Homo sapiens: one gene and its partners. The protein of the gene in region 1 purifies or fractionates together with the protein of each later gene. This does not show direct contact. Each region holds a gene or a part of one and is shown in the gene's direction. Other genes may lie near its edges. The genes, in order: TRUB1, DDX19A, MRI1, PBDC1 and CAPG.

Evidence for each region.
Region 2: the proteins of TRUB1 (region 1) and DDX19A fractionate together in Homo sapiens (co-fractionation; one large-scale study listed by BioGRID). This does not show direct contact.
Region 3: the proteins of TRUB1 (region 1) and MRI1 fractionate together in Homo sapiens (co-fractionation; one large-scale study listed by BioGRID). This does not show direct contact.
Region 4: the proteins of TRUB1 (region 1) and PBDC1 fractionate together in Homo sapiens (co-fractionation; one large-scale study listed by BioGRID). This does not show direct contact.
Region 5: the proteins of TRUB1 (region 1) and CAPG purify together in Homo sapiens (affinity purification with mass spectrometry; one large-scale study listed by BioGRID and IntAct). This does not show direct contact.

What each region holds. Positions count from the first base shown.
Region 1 is NC_000010.11:114,948,181-114,951,698, forward strand, and holds part of TRUB1 (pseudouridylate synthase TRUB1), read left to right. Parts: intron 1-2,913; coding exon 2,914-2,969; intron 2,970-3,518. UniProt on the Homo sapiens protein: Pseudouridine synthase that catalyzes pseudouridylation of mRNAs and tRNAs. Mediates pseudouridylation of mRNAs with the consensus sequence 5'-GUUCNANNC-3', harboring a stem-loop structure. Constitutes the major pseudouridine synthase acting on mRNAs.
Region 2 is NC_000016.10:70,370,885-70,373,883, forward strand, and holds the end of DDX19A (ATP-dependent RNA helicase DDX19A), read left to right. Parts: intron 1-487; coding exon 488-679; intron 680-1,040; coding exon 1,041-1,102; 3' UTR 1,103-2,499; downstream 2,500-2,999. UniProt on the Homo sapiens protein: ATP-dependent RNA helicase involved in mRNA export from the nucleus.
Region 3 is NC_000019.10:13,771,019-13,774,536, forward strand, and holds the end of MRI1 (methylthioribose-1-phosphate isomerase), read left to right. Parts: exon of another isoform or gene 1-864; intron 865-1,102; coding exon 1,103-1,263; 3' UTR 1,264-3,264; downstream 3,265-3,518. Other genes in the region: C19orf53 (leydig cell tumor 10 kDa protein homolog), read left to right, coding at 3,460-3,518.
Region 4 is NC_000023.11:76,171,861-76,175,877, forward strand, and holds the start of PBDC1 (protein PBDC1), read left to right. Parts: upstream 1-1,201; 5' UTR 1,202-1,278; coding exon 1,279-1,308; intron 1,309-1,724; coding exon 1,725-1,790; intron 1,791-3,029; coding exon 3,030-3,089; intron 3,090-3,612; coding exon 3,613-3,753; intron 3,754-4,017.
Region 5 is NC_000002.12:85,400,367-85,403,884, reverse strand, and holds part of CAPG (macrophage-capping protein), read left to right. Parts: intron 1-1,726; 5' UTR 1,727-1,739; coding exon 1,740-1,762; intron 1,763-1,927; coding exon 1,928-2,100; intron 2,101-2,201; coding exon 2,202-2,356; intron 2,357-2,555; coding exon 2,556-2,720; intron 2,721-3,518. UniProt on the Homo sapiens protein: Calcium-sensitive protein which reversibly blocks the barbed ends of actin filaments but does not sever preformed actin filaments. May play an important role in macrophage function.

The sequences.
Region 1 (3,518 bases):
ACCCCGTTATTCATCTGCTCTCTAAATTCTCCACACCTTTTCAAATGTGGTGCCTTTGCTCATGTTTTTCTTTTATAAGCTGCTCATCTCTCTCAGCACCTTTGGTTGTAGAAGTCCTACTGACCTTTCCAGGTTCAGCTGAAATGCCATTTCCTACCTTTGAAGCCTGCCTGCTGCTCTTCTATACTGCTAATGTAAAATTTCATTTTGTTCTTTTAGTTTTTGTTAATATCTGTCTCCCTATTATATTGTTAAATCACAGCTGAAGCCAGGTCTTATTTATTTCTGTACCTACACAATAAGTACTGGATACAATTTTGAATGATTGAAGGGAAAAAATGCCGAGTAAAAATTCTGTCCGGGAAACTAACCTGTGAATGAAAAGCTGCTGGTTGGCTAGGTCCCAACTCCAGATAATTTTTCTATATGCCACCACCATATTAGTCTTCCTAAAATTCTGCTTTCACTAATCACCTCACTTCAATGGCATTTGGTTATTCTTAGGTTAAAATGAGAGGATTAAGCTGGGTAACTCTAAGATGGCTTCTTTTAAATTTTATCCTTCTGGGTCACTAAACTAGCTCAGAAACCATCATGAGTTCAGTATTTCAGCCATGTTAAAGTCAAACATGTCAGTCTGCTTCTAAGACACCCTGTGTTCAGTTGATAAACCTACTGTTCTCATCCTTGTATCTGAGAGTTTGTGCAATTATTTTCTTTTTTAGAACATGCTTCTCTTCTCTCTGTTGTGTTCCCTATACATCCTTCAAAGGCCTAATACAAACTCCGAAATGCTTGAATGAAGCATTCTCCGGCCTCTTTAGCCGTTTAGGATGCTCCCACCTTTGCCCTGCTTTGGCAGCGGTTCTCTCTCTGTTCATTTGACACTTAATCATATACTATCATATTGTTATTTAGCATTATTCACTCATTAGGCAACATTTCTTGAGCACTGTGATTTTTCTGTATTTTATTTTCCTGATGAGATTATAAGCTGTTTCAGAGTTAGGAAATGTGTCACAGGTTTCTTTGTTTTTCCATTGGAAGTATTCCTCTTGGGATTATGTGCATAGTAGTTGTTCAAGAAAAATTGATTGGAGATTTATTTGAATGGAATCAAGTCGCATTGAATCTTTCCTGTTTGCCTCATCAGCAGCAGTATCTACAAGTTCTGTCATTTGAAGAGTATTATGCTCTTCAGAGGATTACTGAGGACAGACTGTTTTTGATCTTAGACCTTGAACTATATGACTTAGAAGGACAATACAGATGAGTGTCATAGAGGTTTTGAGGAGGTTGGAATAGACTTTATGAATGAGTTGGGGCTTGAGCTGGGCTTCAAAGGATTGACTTTGAATACTTTAATAAGGAGTTGGTGCTGTAGGCACTGGGACCCTACTAAGGATTGTTTGGGGGGCTTTGTAATGTGAAAAATAGGGTTTCAGAAATGGTTATGAAGTGGTATGAATTGGAAGAGGAAGGGATAGGATGTAGAACCGTCAGGTTTGCAGGGATGTAGGCTGGTTGCAGTGAGGAGAAAGCCTAGGTGAGTTAAGGTGGCAGAGGGAATGGAAAGGAAGGGGGGTCTGTTCTTAGACCATTTGGTTTGAATCTTAACTCTACCAGGTACTGGTTGTGAGATGCTGGACAAAGTTCTTAGTCTCTTATTCCTGTTTCCTCATCTATCAACAGGGGTAATTATACTATCTTTTAAAGTTTTTTTTTTTTTTTTTTTGAGACAGAGTTTTGCTCTTGTCACCCAGGCTGGAGTGCAATGGTGTGATCTTGGCTCACCGCAACCTCTGCCTCTTGGGTTCAAGCGATTCTCCTGCCTTAGCCTCCCAAGTAGCTGGGATTACAGGCATGCGCCACCATACCTGGCTAATTTTGTATTTTTAGTAGAGACGGGGTTTCTCCATGTTGGTCAGGTGGGTCTTGAACTCGTGACCTCAGGTGATCCGCCCGCCTCAACCTCCCAAAATGCTGGGATTACAGGCGTGAGCCAACACACCTGGCCTTTTAAAGTTGTTATAAGGATTAAATGGGATAATGAAAGGAGAGCATTTAGAGTAGAATCTGATACATGGTAAACTCACTGAATGGTATTTGCTGTAAATATTGGAGATATTTTTTCTAGTTTGCCAATCAGTAGTCCTTGTTTACTCTTATAATTCTGAATTGTGGTGATTGTATTGTGTTCTTATGCACAGTTATATCTGTTGATGACAAATATTTCTATACTTACAAAAATGTGGCTTCTTAACAAAAAGAGAAGTGACTAAATCCTCTCACCCTCACCAAGTGAAATGTGTTGACGTATGAATAATGTTTGAAATTTAAGAGAAAGGTAGGCCATTGTTGTACTTTGGGCTCTGTAAATACATTCTTCAGCCTTCATTTTACCTTGTATTCTTTGTGTTAGACTGATTTGTTATGTTTCTCTTTTCTTGATTGTATATACTGCTGGGTGCTAATCATCTTTAAATGGTTCATTAGCTGTGATAATGGCTTTTGCTTTGTTTAATAATGAATTCTGTCAAAAGACTTTATCATACCCACTTGAACATGGTTAATTGTGCCGTGTGTTTTTCACTGGTGCCCATATAAAATTCCAGTGCGTCCTTTGAGATTGTTCTAAGGCTTCATTGTCTAATTGGCTGGGTTAAGGTTTCTACTGAGTTTAATACTTTGAGAATGGGGAGAAAGGTCTTCTCTTGTCCCTTCTTTAGAATTTCTTAGTTGCATGACAAGTTCAACTGTTTGGAGTAATAGGAGCCCTAACATTTTGCTAAATATCTGTTCTTTCCCACTTCACATTACCTAAGCTGGGAAATTATGACCAAAAAATATAGCTATTTTAAAAACCTAGTTTTCAGAACAGAGTGTCATAATATTTCTTTCTTTGATTTGTAGTTGTTGGAATTGGAAGCGGAACAAAAATGTTGACCAGTATGTTGTCAGGGTCCAAGGTAAGAATACTGAAATAGTTCTATTTTTCTTTAATGTTCTTAATGATCTACATGTATTGGGTTTTTATCAAATAAAAAATAAACTGAGTAAACTGCATGAATGGGTATCATTCCTGAGTATTAATTATGTCTATAAACATATCTGAGATTGAAAATATCGAGACTGAAAATTGGAAATTCTTAATTGAAAAACCAATTAGACTTAAAGAAACAATGCTACAGTGCTCATCATTTAACAAAATTATATTTAGACTTTTAAAACATCATATTTCTTAGATGATTGGGACTTAGAGGTCATAAACTCTAGTGACAGACTTTTTTAAACCTTGGAATTTTTATAGAAACAATACCATTTTGTAAACTGTGCCCTTTGAGCAAAAATATGCTTTGTTCAATGGTTATAAATGTTTATTAAAGAAAAGAGTAGGGCCTCTTTAAGATGATAAAGTATGTTCATATATGAGAGTAACCTTGAATAGATCCAAAAGCACTTTTCCAGGCACTTGATAGAAGAGAGAAGGGGTTATTTGGAGGCAGGAGAGGCTGGAA
Region 2 (2,999 bases), on another chromosome or scaffold:
ACTCAGGAGGCTGAGACAGGAGAATCGCTTGAACCCGGGAGGTGGAGGTTACGGTGAGTGAGATCGCGCCATTGCACTCCAGCCTGGGCAACAAGAGCGAAACTCCGTCTCAAAAATAAAAAAAGAAAGAAAGAAAAGGAACTCCCGCAGAAACCAGTAGTCCTGACTTGGTGGAAGGAAATGTACAGGCATCTGACTGGTAGAGAACGGAGCCTACTCTTCCAGGGGCGCCCATCTCCAGAACATTGTGTCTCCCAGAGGATTACCGACTGATCTCATGATTTTGTTGGCACTTGCCAAAGTTCTCTTCTTTTCCTCTGGGTTCTGTTGCCTGCCTATATGTGTGCCCTCTCTTGTACCCAGAGTTGGCCTGTCCCAAATTCTTTCCCTCTATCCCAAAGTTGGTACGCATTGACCTACCTATGGATGACAGTGATTTCTGTCTCCTGTCCTTAGTCCTCTCAGCCTCCAACTCTCCTTCCTGCAGGCATTGATGTTGAACAAGTGTCTGTCGTCATCAACTTTGATCTTCCCGTGGACAAGGACGGGAATCCTGACAATGAGACCTACCTGCACCGGATCGGGCGCACGGGCCGCTTTGGCAAGAGGGGCCTGGCAGTGAACATGGTGGACAGCAAGCACAGCATGAACATCCTGAACAGAATCCAGGAGCATTTTAGTGAGTCCCGGGGAGGGTCCTGTGCCTGGCGCCCTTTGCTAAGTAGGGCGGGGTGGTGAAAGGGGTAGGATCTTCTGTAGCCCCAAGAGAGGCTCTGTCCCTAGCACACTCCCCTCCTTTCTGACCATATGGCAGTTCTCAGGGAGCACACCTGGAGACTTCAGGACCCAGGGACTCCAAGGACAGCTCCCCTGTGACTGGGCTTCGGGGCGTGGGGCTCTGACTGTTGCTGTCAGTGACTAGGGGCCCTGCTGCCCCCTGCTTAGGCACCCGGAGCCTTTGGGCCTGAATGAATGATTGCTGTGGCCTGAGGTGGGGCACATTCCTGGGCAGGGTAGAGACTTGTGTATCTTTCCCCCAGATAAGAAGATAGAAAGATTGGACACAGATGATTTGGACGAGATTGAGAAAATAGCCAACTGAGAAGCTCCACCAGCCACTGATGCCAGCCCTGGCACTGCCCCTGCACAGGAGACAAGTGCATTTAGGGCACAGGCCCCGACATCACCCCAAGGACAACGGCAGAAGTAGAGAGAAACTACCTACCTCACTTCAAATTATGTTTGGACTTGACAAAAATAGGTGCAAATGATGGGGGGCAATAGAAGAAAAAATTTGCATTTTGGAAAATTGGGTCCTTTCCCCACTTTTTTAAAGCCACATTCCCCCATCTTTATAATAATCTGGTCACAGTGGTAGTCGCTGGCCCCAGGACCCCCTCCTGATTTTGGCTAGGCATCGTGGAACCAGCTCCAGCCCCTGAAGAAACGATAGATGTGCAGGTTGTGCGGAAGAGGCTGAGTGGAAAATGGTGTGAGCCCCACCGCTGTGCATCGAATGAGGGAAGTGGCAGCAGAGAGGCCAGAGCTGCCCCCTCTCTGTCTCTTCAATGGACCCTTCACAAGTGTTTCTCCTGCCCTTGGGGCTGTCTTCCTTCTCCTGAAATCCAGAGACTTTCTTGCTCATCCCTTCTCCCTTTCACTTCTGTTCTCTGCTGCAGAAAGCAGACTTGCATATCCCTGATGAGCAGCTCGGCTACTTTTGTAAACTTCAGATTTGGAGAGAAACACGAAAGTCTGAATCCTGACCCCTTGAGAGAGAGTGATCTGGCGAGGGCCGATGAAGGGGCTGGGCCTGGTCTTGCCTTCTCTTCTCTCGGTTGCTCCCTCTGCCTAGGCCCCTGGTACTCAGTCACGGCAGCCAGGAGACCCCAGGTGAGTTTCTGAGCGCATACGTAGTTGGTTCTTACCCCCAGGTGTCACACGGGGCCGAGAGCTGAGCAAGAATTTGGAATGGAAGTTATGACCAAGGGAATTATGCTGTTCATTTATAATAGTGGACATTATGGAGAGCTCTGATTCCTACATAATATGAATAAGGATGGATAGGCCGGGCGTGGTGGCTCATGCCTATAATCCCAGCACGTTGGGAGGCTGAGGCGGGCGGATCGGTTGAGCTCAGGCGTTCGGGACCAGCCTGGCCAACATGATGAAACCCCGTCTCTACCAAAAATAGAAAAAAATATAGCCGGGCCTGGTGGCGCACGCCTGTAGTCCCAGCTACTCGGGAGGCTGAGGTAGGAGGATCGCTTGAGCCTGGGTAGAGGCTGCTGTGAGCTGAAATGGCGCCACTGCACTCCAGCCTGGGTAACAGAGCGAGACCCCGACTCAATAAATAAATAAGGATGGATAAATTGTAGCGTATGCACCATTCATTATGCTAAGACATTTTAAAGTAATTATGAGAAACGCTCTACTAATGATTTGTTTTTATTTGTATTTTTCTGCTTATTAGACAAATATATACTCATTTTAAAAAGGCGTGTGTGTATATAAAGTGAGAGTGCTCTCTATCCCTTCTCTTCTGGGATCCTGATTCCTGGCAGCTTGGTGAATATTCTACCATATTGCCTTTTATTTGCATAAACCCATTTTTCTTTTACAAAAACAGGAACATTCTGTTCACACTACTATGCAACCTGCTTTCACTGATCAGCATGTGTTAGACATGTTGACATGTCCAATACACACACATCTTCCTTGCCCTGGAAACACCATCCACCTTCCTTTCTGCGTGTAGCTGTCCCGGCATTTATCTCCTGGTTCCTCTAGTGACAGGCATGGGGGATTTCTAGTACATGGCTGTTATCCACAGTACCACAATGAACATTTTTTTTTTCTTTTTTTGAGACAGAGTGTCACTCTGGCCCGGAGTACAGAGGCGTGATCTCGGCCCACTGCAACCTCTGCCTCCCAGCTTCAAGCAGTTCTCTTGCCTCAGCCTCCCAAGTAGCTGGGATTACAGGCACATGCCAGCATGC
Region 3 (3,518 bases), on another chromosome or scaffold:
GAGTTCAAGACCAGCCTGGGCAACATTGCCAGACCACAATCTCTAAAAAAATTGTTTTGCCAGGTGTGGTGGTTCATGATTGTAACCCCAGCACTTTGGGAGGCTGAGGCGGGCGGATCACCTGAGGTCAGGGGTTCGAGACCAGCCTGGCCAATGTGGTGAAACCCCGTCTCTACTAAAAATACAAAAAAAAAAAACGTTAGCTGGGCGAGGTGGCAGGCGCCTGTAATCCCAACTACTTGGGAGGCTGAGGCAGGAGAATCGCTTGAACCTGGGAGGCACAGGTTGCAGTGAGTTGAGATCATGTCACTGCACTCCAGCCTAGGTGACAAGAGCAAAACTCCATCTCAAAAAAACAAAAAAACAGCTAGACATGATGGTGCACATCTGTGGTCCCAGCTGCTCAGGAGGCTGCAGCAGGAGAATCGTTTGAATCCAAGAGGCAGAGGTTACACTGAGCCAAGATCGCACCACTGTACTACAGCCTGGGTGACACAACGAGACTCTGTGTCAAAAATAATAATAATAATTAAAAATAAAACTAAAAAAATAAGTGGGATGGGCCAGGTGCGGTGGCTCACGCCTGTAATCCCAGCACTTTGGGAGGCCGAGGCGGGCAGATCACCTGAGGTCGGGAGTTTGAGACCAGCCTGACCAACATGGAAAAACCTCGTCTCTACTAAAAATACTGGCTGGGCATGGTGGTGCATGCCTGTAATCCCAGCTACTCGGGAGGCTGAGGCAGGAGAATTGCTTGAAACCTGGGAGGTGGAGGTTGCAGTGAACCAAGATCGTGCCATTGCACTCCAGCCTGGGCAACAAGAGCAAAACTACATCTCACAAAAAATAAAAAAATAAGTGGCATAGATGTGTATAGGACTTTGAATTTTTCTTGGGGACTGACATTCTAGGGGCAGTGGCGAGTCTAAACTTACTATTGAGTACAATGTCCATGCCTGCATGTACTTTTGGGGTGAGAATCCTCAGGTTCTCAAGGACTCCCCAACTCCAAGAACCACTGTGGTAGAAACAGATGACTACAACCTGAGAACTTTCACAGAAGCAAATTCTTGCCTCCTTGCCTCCCCTCTCTCCCCTGCAGGGATTGGAGTTTGGAATCCTGCCTTCGATGTCACCCCCCACGACCTCATCACTGGTGGCATCATCACAGAACTGGGGGTCTTTGCCCCTGAGGAGCTCCGGACAGCCCTAACCACCACCATCTCTTCCAGGGATGGAACCCTAGATGGACCCCAGATGTAACCAACTCAGCTCTCCCTAGCCTGCCTCTCTAGGTTTTTCAATACATTTCTTGAATGGCTACCCAAAAGCTGACCGTCCAGCCCCTGACCACACTTGTTCCTAGTGCAGGGAGCTCAGACAGGGCCTTCCATCTAGAGCCCAGCACCTAGAGCCAGGCTGCCCAGATTCAAATCCTGACTCCGCCACTTTTCCCACTGTATGATCTTGGGCAAGTCACTTCACCTCTCTGTGCCTTGGTTTCCTCATTTATAAAATGTGGATAACAGGCCGGGCGCAGTGGCTCACACCTGTAATCCCAGCACTTTGGGAGGCCGAGGCAGGTGGATCACAAGATCAGGAGATTGAGACCATCCTGGCTAACATGGTGAAACCCCATCTCTACTAAAAATACAAAAAATTAGCCGGGTGTGGTGGTGGGCACCTGCAGTCCCAGCTACTTGGGAGGCTGAGGCAGGAGAATGGCGTGAAACTGGGAGGCAGAGCTTGCAGTGAGCCGAGATAGCGCCACTGCACTCCAGCCTGGGCAACAGAGCGAGACTCCGTCTCAAAAATAAATATAATTAATTAATTATTTAATTAAAAAAATAAAAAATAAATGTGGATAATACTAGTACCTCCCTCTTAAGGTCAGGGCTGGAGCTAGGGTGACATCTCCAGGGCAGAATTTTAAGAGGACACCAAAAAAGCTCAGCAACCAAGATAAAAAATATTTTAAAGCAATATTTTGTTTTGGGTTTTTTTTTTTTGAGATCAAGTATCACTCGTTACCCAGGCTGGAATGTAGAGGCGAGATCTCAGCTCACTGAAACCTGTGCCTCCCCGGTTCAAGCGATTCTCCTGCCACAGCCTCCTGAGTAGCTGGGATTACAGGCATGCGCCACCATGCCCAGCTAATTTTTCTATTTTTAGTAGAGACATGATTTCACCATGTTGGCCAGGCTGGTCTCGAACTCCTGACTCAAATGATCCCCCTGCCTCAGCCTCCCAAAGTGCTGGGACTACAGGCATGAGCCACTGTGCCTGACCTTACAGCAGTATTTTTTAAAAATCAAAATTAATGCAAAAATCCATGATGAGGCCAGGCTTGGTGGCTCATGCCTGTAATTCCAGCACTTTGGGAGGATCCCTTGAGCCCAGGTGTTTGAGACCAGTTTGGGTAACATAGGAAGAGCTTGTCTCTACAAACAAAAATTTAAAAACAATGAGCTGGGCATGGAACTCACACCTCTAGCCCCAGCTACTCAGGCTGAAGTGGGAGGATGGCTTGAGCCCAGGAGTTCAAGGATGCAGTGTGCTTTGATTGCACTACTGCACTTCACCCTAAGCAACAGAGTGAGACCCCATCTCTTTAAAAAAAAAAAAAAATCCATGATGAACAAAACAAGTATTTGTTTGAGACGGGGTCTCGCTCTGTCGCCCAGGCTGGAGTACAGTGGTGCCATCTCAGCTCACTGCAACCTCCGCCTTCTGGGTTCAAGCGACTCTCCTGCCTCAGCCTCCCGAGTAGCTGGGATTACAGGAGCCTGGCACTATGCCTGGCTAATTTTTGTATTTTTATTGGAGACACCATGTTAGTCGTGGCTGGTCTCCAACTCCTGACCTCGGGTGATCCGCGCCCCGCGGCCTCCGAAAGTGCTGGGATTACAAGCGTGAGCCACCGTGCCCGGCCTAAATAAAATTTTGAAGAGGCTAGAACCCCGCACTTGTGCCTTGAGCTTACTGACCTCAACACCCTGGTTCCACTAAAACTTTATTTACAAAATTATGCTGCCGGTCTGCAGGATGTAGTTTAACAATTTGATTATTTTGGATATTAAAATATTTTTTAAGTCTTGAAAATATTGTTTACTATTACCAAAGTTTTTGAACCTTCTTAAATTCTGTACCAGAGGTGAGTGCCACACCCTAACCTAGTCTGAGTTTTTATGTGTAAAGATCATAAAACGTTGTAAGTTTTCTAAAACACATAAGCTCTCAATAAACGTTAGCTTATCATTGTCACCGTTTTGTTCGTAATGTTTGAAAACTCCAACTGTGATCCACTACACTACCCTTGTGGGATGCTGTCTCTTTAACTCTGTGCCACGTTGTATCCCGTGAGTTCTTGCGTTTTTCCGCCCCGCTGTATCCCATGGTTCCCTGTGCCTTCCGGCTACGACTGCTCACAGTCCCGCCTCTTCCGCTGCGTGCCGGACCATGGCGCAGGGGCAGCGCAAGTTTCAGGCGCACAAACCCGCAAAGAGTAAGACGGCAGC
Region 4 (4,017 bases), on another chromosome or scaffold:
TTTTTTTTTTGCTGCCTTTTTTCCTTCATAAATGCTTGACCTGCTGCTTTTTATGTCTTTACAGTACTTTAGAGATTTCTTATGAAAGCTCAACTAAACCTGAAGTACCAACTATCAAATTTATCTCTGATCAGATCTCCCTCTGCCTGGTCAATTCTATCTGAATGACCCATAGGCTCTTATAACTTAACTTCTCAAATTAAACTCATCATTTCTCCTCTGTGTTCCCTTGCTCAACGATATTTATGCCCAAATCCTATTCTGAAATCTGGGAGTCATACTAGAATCCAAATTCCCCTTTATCCTCTACATGAAATTAGTCAAAAAGTTCTATTGATTCTAAGCCCCATTAATTCTCAAAATTCATCTCAACTGCCACTGCTTTAGTTTAGATTTTCATCACCCACTGCCTTCAAACTGGTGTCTCTGTCTCCAATTTTGTCTTCCTCAAATTAATCTTCTATGTTGTGTTAGAGTGATCATAAAAGTTAAATCTGACCATGAAGCTGGCCTACTTAAAAATCTTCAGTAGCTTACTGTTGCTCTAAGGGTAAACTCTCTACTCTTTAACATTCAGCATACCAAAGGCCCTGTGCTCCCTCAAATGATTATAGATGACTCCACTTTGGATTCAGCTATACTGCTTTTGTAATTCCCAGCAAGGTGCCACTAATGGCTTTGTTTGTGCTATTCCCTCTGCCTGGACTGTCTTTCCCTGTCTGCTTGGCTAAGCTCCCCTTCATGATTCAGCTTAGGTATCCCCCATTCATGCTCCCACATCATCCGATGCTATGCTGTGAGCACTACTGTATCCGGTCCCTCACTATATCTAGTTGTTCCAAGGCAGGGACTAAATTCTTCATTCCTGCACTCTGCGCCCTAGCACCATGCATTTTCGTGAATCACTCCCTGGTTTGGGGTACTGGTGTGTATGTGTATGCGCATGTGCGTATATGCGCATATGAATGGAGAGTAAATTTGAATTTTTGCTGGGCACACGGCGCAGTGAAGACAAGAAAGGGGCACTATTTTAACACAACCTTTTCCCGTGATCACCACCGAAAATTACTGACGAGTCAATCACCTCAGATCTCTCAAGCAGTCCAGCCTACGCAACAGTACTCCACCTCTGCGCCTGTGCGGGGAGGGTAAGGCGGGGCCAGCAACTTCCTCAGCTGGAGGGAGAGCGCACGGTGGAGCCGCCAGTTGAGAAGGACTCTGATCCGGCTCAGCTTTCCAATCAGCTGCGGAAGGAGCCACGCTTTCGGGGGTTGCAAGATGGCGGCCACCAGTGGAACTGATGAGCCGGTGAGACGCTGTTCTGGGGTCGGGTGAGTGGGGAGGTCGAGCCAGGTGGAGCCTTTTTTTTTTCTTTTTTGAGACAAGGTGTCACTCAGTCGCCCAGGCTGGAGTGCAGTGGTGGGATCACCGCTTACTGCAGCCTCGACCTCCAGCGCTCAGATCTTCCGCCCACCTCATCCTCCCGAGGAGCTGGGACTACAGGCCCGTGCCACCACGCCCAGCTACATTTTTTGTATTTTTTGTAGAGACGGGGTTTCGCCATGTTGCCCAGGCTGGTCTCAAACTCCTGGGCTCAGGCGATCCGCCCGCCTCGGCCTCCCAAAGTGCTGGGATTACAGGCACGAGTCACTGCGACTGGCCTTGGGGGGAGCCACCGCGCCCGGCCTTGGGGGGAGCCTTGAACTCTTTTTCCTCCTTTCTAGGTTTCCGGGGAGTTGGTGTCTGTGGCACATGCGCTTTCTCTCCCAGCAGAGTCGTATGGCAACGATGTGAGTATGACTCACCCACAGCTCCCACCCACTCAGCTAGCCTGGGATCTCTGCAGGACCTGCCTGCCACTAAGTTATAACTTCACGTCCTGATAATCTACTGCAGACCCTCTCCACTTACACCAGAAACTGCACCTTCGTTCAGTTCGTTTTAATCTTGGTCCACAAACGCAGGACTAACGCCTGTGGAAGTGGTTCCCCAAGTTGGCCACGCTTTAGAATTACTGGGGAGCTTTTAAACATCCCGCTGCCTAGATTGCAGTTCATACCACCTAAATCAGAATGTCTGGGTAATGAGAGCCAAGAATCAGTATTTTTAAAGGGTCTCTGAGGGATTCCATTGTGCAGCTTATGGTGTGTCTGGTTTAGAAAATTACTGAGAAAGTATATGAGGTATTTTCCAAAACAAGACAAGAGGATGTGAGAATAGTAAAAACACCCAAATAAGAGTGTGATACATATAATGAGTGGGTCAGGCCATAAGATCCAAATAATTTAGCTGAAGGAGAAATCCCTAAGGGGCCAAGGCAGTGGAAGACTTGACTGAGGAAATGGAGCTTTACCTGTATCCTCAAAGTGTAGGTGGACAAAGGACATGGATTGGCACGTGGGAAAAGTGCATGGTCTAAGGCATGGAGGTAACAAATGCAAATGGCTTTTTCTGGAGTCAGTGAAATAGCTCGGTCTCGTTGGAATGGGAGATTCCAGTGGAACCTCCAGTGGGGTGCTTGGTAAGACTTATTATAACCTTGACCTGTTTCATGTGCTAATTCATTTCTAGGTGTTACAGTATGGGGAATTGGCTGTTTGGTAAACAAAAATGATTATGACATGCTTCAGTCTTAAAAGTGAAAAGTAATTTTCATTTTGATTCTTTGTTCTCCCAACAACTCAGTGGAATTGATGGGTATATTATTTCAGTTTTACAATGATTTAACTCAATCCTGAGAAGGTGATTTATCTCCTGCTTTATTTAGTCTCCCAGCTTTCACTAGCAGCTGGGAAAAGATAGCCGGTGGCTCATTGTGTTCATTATACTGTGTAGGTAGCTTTTTTTGGTTGTCATACAGACAAAATAATTATTGTCCAAATTTATTACTCCAGTTTTTATCATTTGACAGTAACATCAAGTTTGGTAGCCCTCTTGAGCATTAACTAGACATCCACATACTTCCTTAATTTGCTATTCAGTAGTAGGATGGGGAGATTTATGACCTGGCATTCTTCACTCCTTTGCAGCCTGACATTGAGATGGCTTGGGCCATGAGAGCAATGCAGCATGCTGAAGTCTATTACAAGGTGAGTTGTCTTTCTTCATCATTAAGCAGAATTAAACATGTAATTATAGTGTATGATGCTCTGCTTATCACTATTCTCAGCAAGTTAAACAGTTGTGTTTTGGAGATCGTTTTTATTAATGTAAGTTCTTACCCACAGACAACAGAGGAGCGAAGGCAAATTTGTTTCTACAATGAGTTCTGCTGCTTTGCCCAGCGTTATAATGCTAACTGACAAAAGGGCGTCTGGCCCATACATAGTAGGCACTTAATAAATGTTTGTTGAATGAATGAACAATCCACGGAGGGCAATAGCCAGGCAGTACTGTGGTTAAGTAAGCCAACTGCCAAATTGGTGGAAGGGATTGTAATAATATATTATGGCCTTAAACTGTGTCATGATTTCATCTAGGATGTAGACTGTCGACACTTCCTGAAGAGATCTTCTGCCCTGAGAACCATAAAGGTTTTCTGGTGGGGATGGGGAAGATAGAAGTATAGTAAATTACAGACTAGCATCTGTATGTTGTCTTACTGTTTCGCAGCTGATTTCATCAGTTGACCCACAGTTCCTGAAACTCACCAAAGTAGATGACCAAATTTACTCTGAGTTCCGGAAAAATTTTGAGACCCTTAGGATAGATGTGTTGGACCCAGAAGAACTCAAGTCAGAATCAGCCAAAGAGGTAAAAATTCTCTTTCTTAAATATTACTTAGCATTTAACCAACAATTTTTGATTGCGAATGTTTTTTTACATTTAAGCTCTTTTTTTGTTTGAGAAAAATATGTAAAGAACCAGAACTTCTTTTCTAGTTGTAATCAACTAAGTTAGGAAATGAATGTTTTTCCAGTTTATGGACTTTTCATGTTGTTGAGTCTATTTTTTTCTCCTTTTTGTCTTGGACATTTTAAATCTCCACCCATCAGCCCTTTCAGAGGAGGATGGATC
Region 5 (3,518 bases), on another chromosome or scaffold:
GATGGAGTCTCACTCTGTCACCCAGGCTGGAGTACAATGGCATGGGCTTAGCTCACTGCAGCCTCTGCCTCTTGGGTTCAAGCAATTTTCCCGCCTCAGCCTCCTGAGTAGCTGGGACTATAGGCACGTGCCACCACACCCAGCAAATTTTTGTATTTTTAGTAGAGATAGGGTTTCACCATGTTGGCCAGGCTGGTCTCGAACTCCTGACCTCATGATCCACCCACCTTGGCCTCCCAAAGTGCTGGGATTACAGGCGTGAGCCACCGTGTCCAGCCAAATTGTGTTAATTTTTGTATGTGTATGTTCATGAGAGATACTGATCTGTAATTTTCTTTTTGCATAATATATTTATCTGGTTTTGTTATCAGGAGAATGTTGGCAGCATAGGATGAATTGAGAAGTGTTCTGTCATCTCTTTTTTTGAAGATTTTGTGTACAATTGGTATTATGTCCTTTTTAAATTTTTGGTAGAAATTACCAGGGAAGCCATCTGGGCTTGGGTTTTTTGGCGGGGGAACGAGTTTTTTACTACAAATTTATTTTCTTTAATAGATATGGCCACTGTTCAGATAATCTGTGTCTTCTTGAATGAGCTTTCATAATTTGTGTCTTTGAAGGAATTTGCCCATTTTATATAAGTGGTTGAATATATTGGCATAAAGTTTTTATAATATTCCCTTTATCCTTTTAATATCTGTAAAATCTATGGTGATCTCACATCTCTCATTTCTGTATTGATATTTGTGTTTTCTCTTTCTGTTAATCAGTTTGTCTAAAGATTTATCAATTTTATCGGTTTAAAAAAACAACTTGCCAGGCACGGTGGCTCACGCCTGTAATACCAACACTTTGGGAGGCTGAGGCGCGTGAATCACCTGAGGTCAGGAGTTTAAGACCAGCCTGGCCAACATGGTGAAACCCTGTCTCTACTAAAAATACAAAAATTAGCCAGGCGTGGTGGTGTGGGCCTGTAATCCCAGCTACTTGGGAAGCTGAGGCACAAGAATCACTTGAACTCATGAGGCAGAGGTCGCAGTGAGCTGAGATCACGCCACTGCACTCCAGCCTGAGTGACAGAGTGAGACTCTGTCTCCAAAAAAAAAAAAGCCAACTTGAGGCCAGGCATGGTGGCTCATGCCTATACTCTCGGCACTTTGGGAGGCTGAGATGGGCAAATCACTTGAGGTTAGGAGTTCAACACCAGCCTGGGCAACATGGCAAAACCCCATCTCTACTAAAAATACAAAAATTAGCCAGGTGTGATGGTGTTGCCTGTAATCCCAGCTGCTTGGGTGGCTGAGACCGGAGGATTACTTGAACCCGGGAGGCGGAGGTTGCAGTGAGGCGAGATCGCACCACTGCACTCCAGCCTGGGCAACAGAGTGAGACTCAGTCTCAAAAAAAAAATTCATTGCTCTTCTCTCTTGTTTCTGTTTTCTGTTAATTTCTGCTTTTATTTTAATTTCTGTGAGATCTCAGCAGACGGAAGACCCTGGCCCAGGGGTCAGAGACCTTATTTCCATGAACCACTCACTAGCTGTGTGGCCTTGGACTCATTTCTGAGACTCATTTTCTTTGTCTGCATAATGGAACTAGGGCTCCTAGAGGTGGAGTAGTTGATGAATATGAAAGTACTTGGCCACTGGAAAGGGCCTCTCCAGCCCCACGTGAGAGGTCCTTTTTGTGGCATTTGTAATAATAATGGCTTCTTCTTTCTTTCCAGATCTGAAGACAGCATGTACACAGCCATTCCCCAGAGGTAAGCTGCATGCCCCATCTCCTTTCACAACTTCCCCTTCTTTACCTCCAAGGGCTGCCCCTCCCCACTGCTCTCCTCATCCCCAGACTGCAGTCGCCAGGCCTGCCCAGGGCTGTGCTTGGGCAAGTGGGTCCAGGCTGCTGTCAACCCTCTCTCTTCTCGCAGTGGCTCTCCATTCCCAGGCTCAGTGCAGGATCCAGGCCTGCATGTGTGGCGGGTGGAGAAGCTGAAGCCGGTGCCTGTGGCGCAAGAGAACCAGGGCGTCTTCTTCTCGGGGGACTCCTACCTAGTGCTGCACAATGGCCCAGAAGAGGTTTCCCATCTGCACCTGTGGATAGGTAAGGGGATCTGGATGGGGGAAGGTTGGGCCCAGGAAGGGGAGGGAGGGGGCTGGTATGGATCACAAGGGCCTTGCCCTGCCCTCTCCCACTTGTCCCAGGCCAGCAGTCATCCCGGGATGAGCAGGGGGCCTGTGCCGTGCTGGCTGTGCACCTCAACACGCTGCTGGGAGAGCGGCCTGTGCAGCACCGCGAGGTGCAGGGCAATGAGTCTGACCTCTTCATGAGCTACTTCCCACGGGGCCTCAAGTACCAGGTCAGAGCCCACCTCTAGGCACCCCCACCCTGCAGCTTCCCTCAGAGCCAGCCCTGCTTCTGGCTGGTTCTCACCCTGCAGAAGACCCGGGTGCCTTTGGAGCCGGGTCCCCACCTTTCTGCCCGTCTTCCAGTGGGATGGGGTGCAGAGGGCTCTGGGTCTCCTGTCAGTCCACTCAGATGGGCCGTCTGGGCTGCAGGAAGGTGGTGTGGAGTCAGCATTTCACAAGACCTCCACAGGAGCCCCAGCTGCCATCAAGAAACTCTACCAGGTGAAGGGGAAGAAGAACATCCGTGCCACCGAGCGGGCACTGAACTGGGACAGCTTCAACACTGGGGACTGCTTCATCCTGGACCTGGGCCAGGTGGGTAGGCTGGCCAGACTGAGCACTCCGTATTGGCACCATCCTTTATAAGGACGGAGGGGCAGGAGGCCAGGAAAGAGGGAGAGAAGCTGAGAAGCCGTAAACCCATTCCAAGTGAGATCACTCTGACCATTGGAGAATGTCCCTATATTTGTAAGGACTGATGCCAGCCTCCTTCTGCCATCTAGACATTGCCTCTGATGCTCTGGAGCTTTTTCCCTCCTCTTGGAAGCCTCTGAGTTCACTGCCTGCCAGACCATTCATTAATTCAGTCATTTATCTCTTCGTTCAGTGAATCTATGATGCTCTCTCTGAGCCAGCACAGGGACCATAAAAGCTCGCTCTGGGGAGGCAGCCAAGATGGGCCAGTCACTTGCCATAACCTGAGGCAGGATGTGATGAGGGCTTTAAGGGGGACAGCTGCCATGTGCTGGGGGGGTCTTGGGGCAGGGAGGGGCCCTCTAGCCTGAGCCGAAGCCAGTTGTCCCAGGAAGGTGACATTGGACTAGACCTATAGGAGGGGAGATGCCACTCCAGGCAAAGGGAGAAGGTGAGCTGAGCCACCAAGGTGGGGAAGGGTGCAGACATGCACACACCAGGGGTCTAGTGAGACTGGGACCCGGGCTGGGGGACAGGAGCAGGGGGAGGGAAATTCCTAAGCAAGGTGGAAGGTGAGCCCTAGGTCATGAGGAGATTGGCTGGCTGAGGAGTATGGGCTGCGTCTTGTGGCGCTGAAGATTTGGGGCAGGGAGATCAATCCAGGAGCTCTTGGTGAGGACTACACGTGCTGAGACAAGG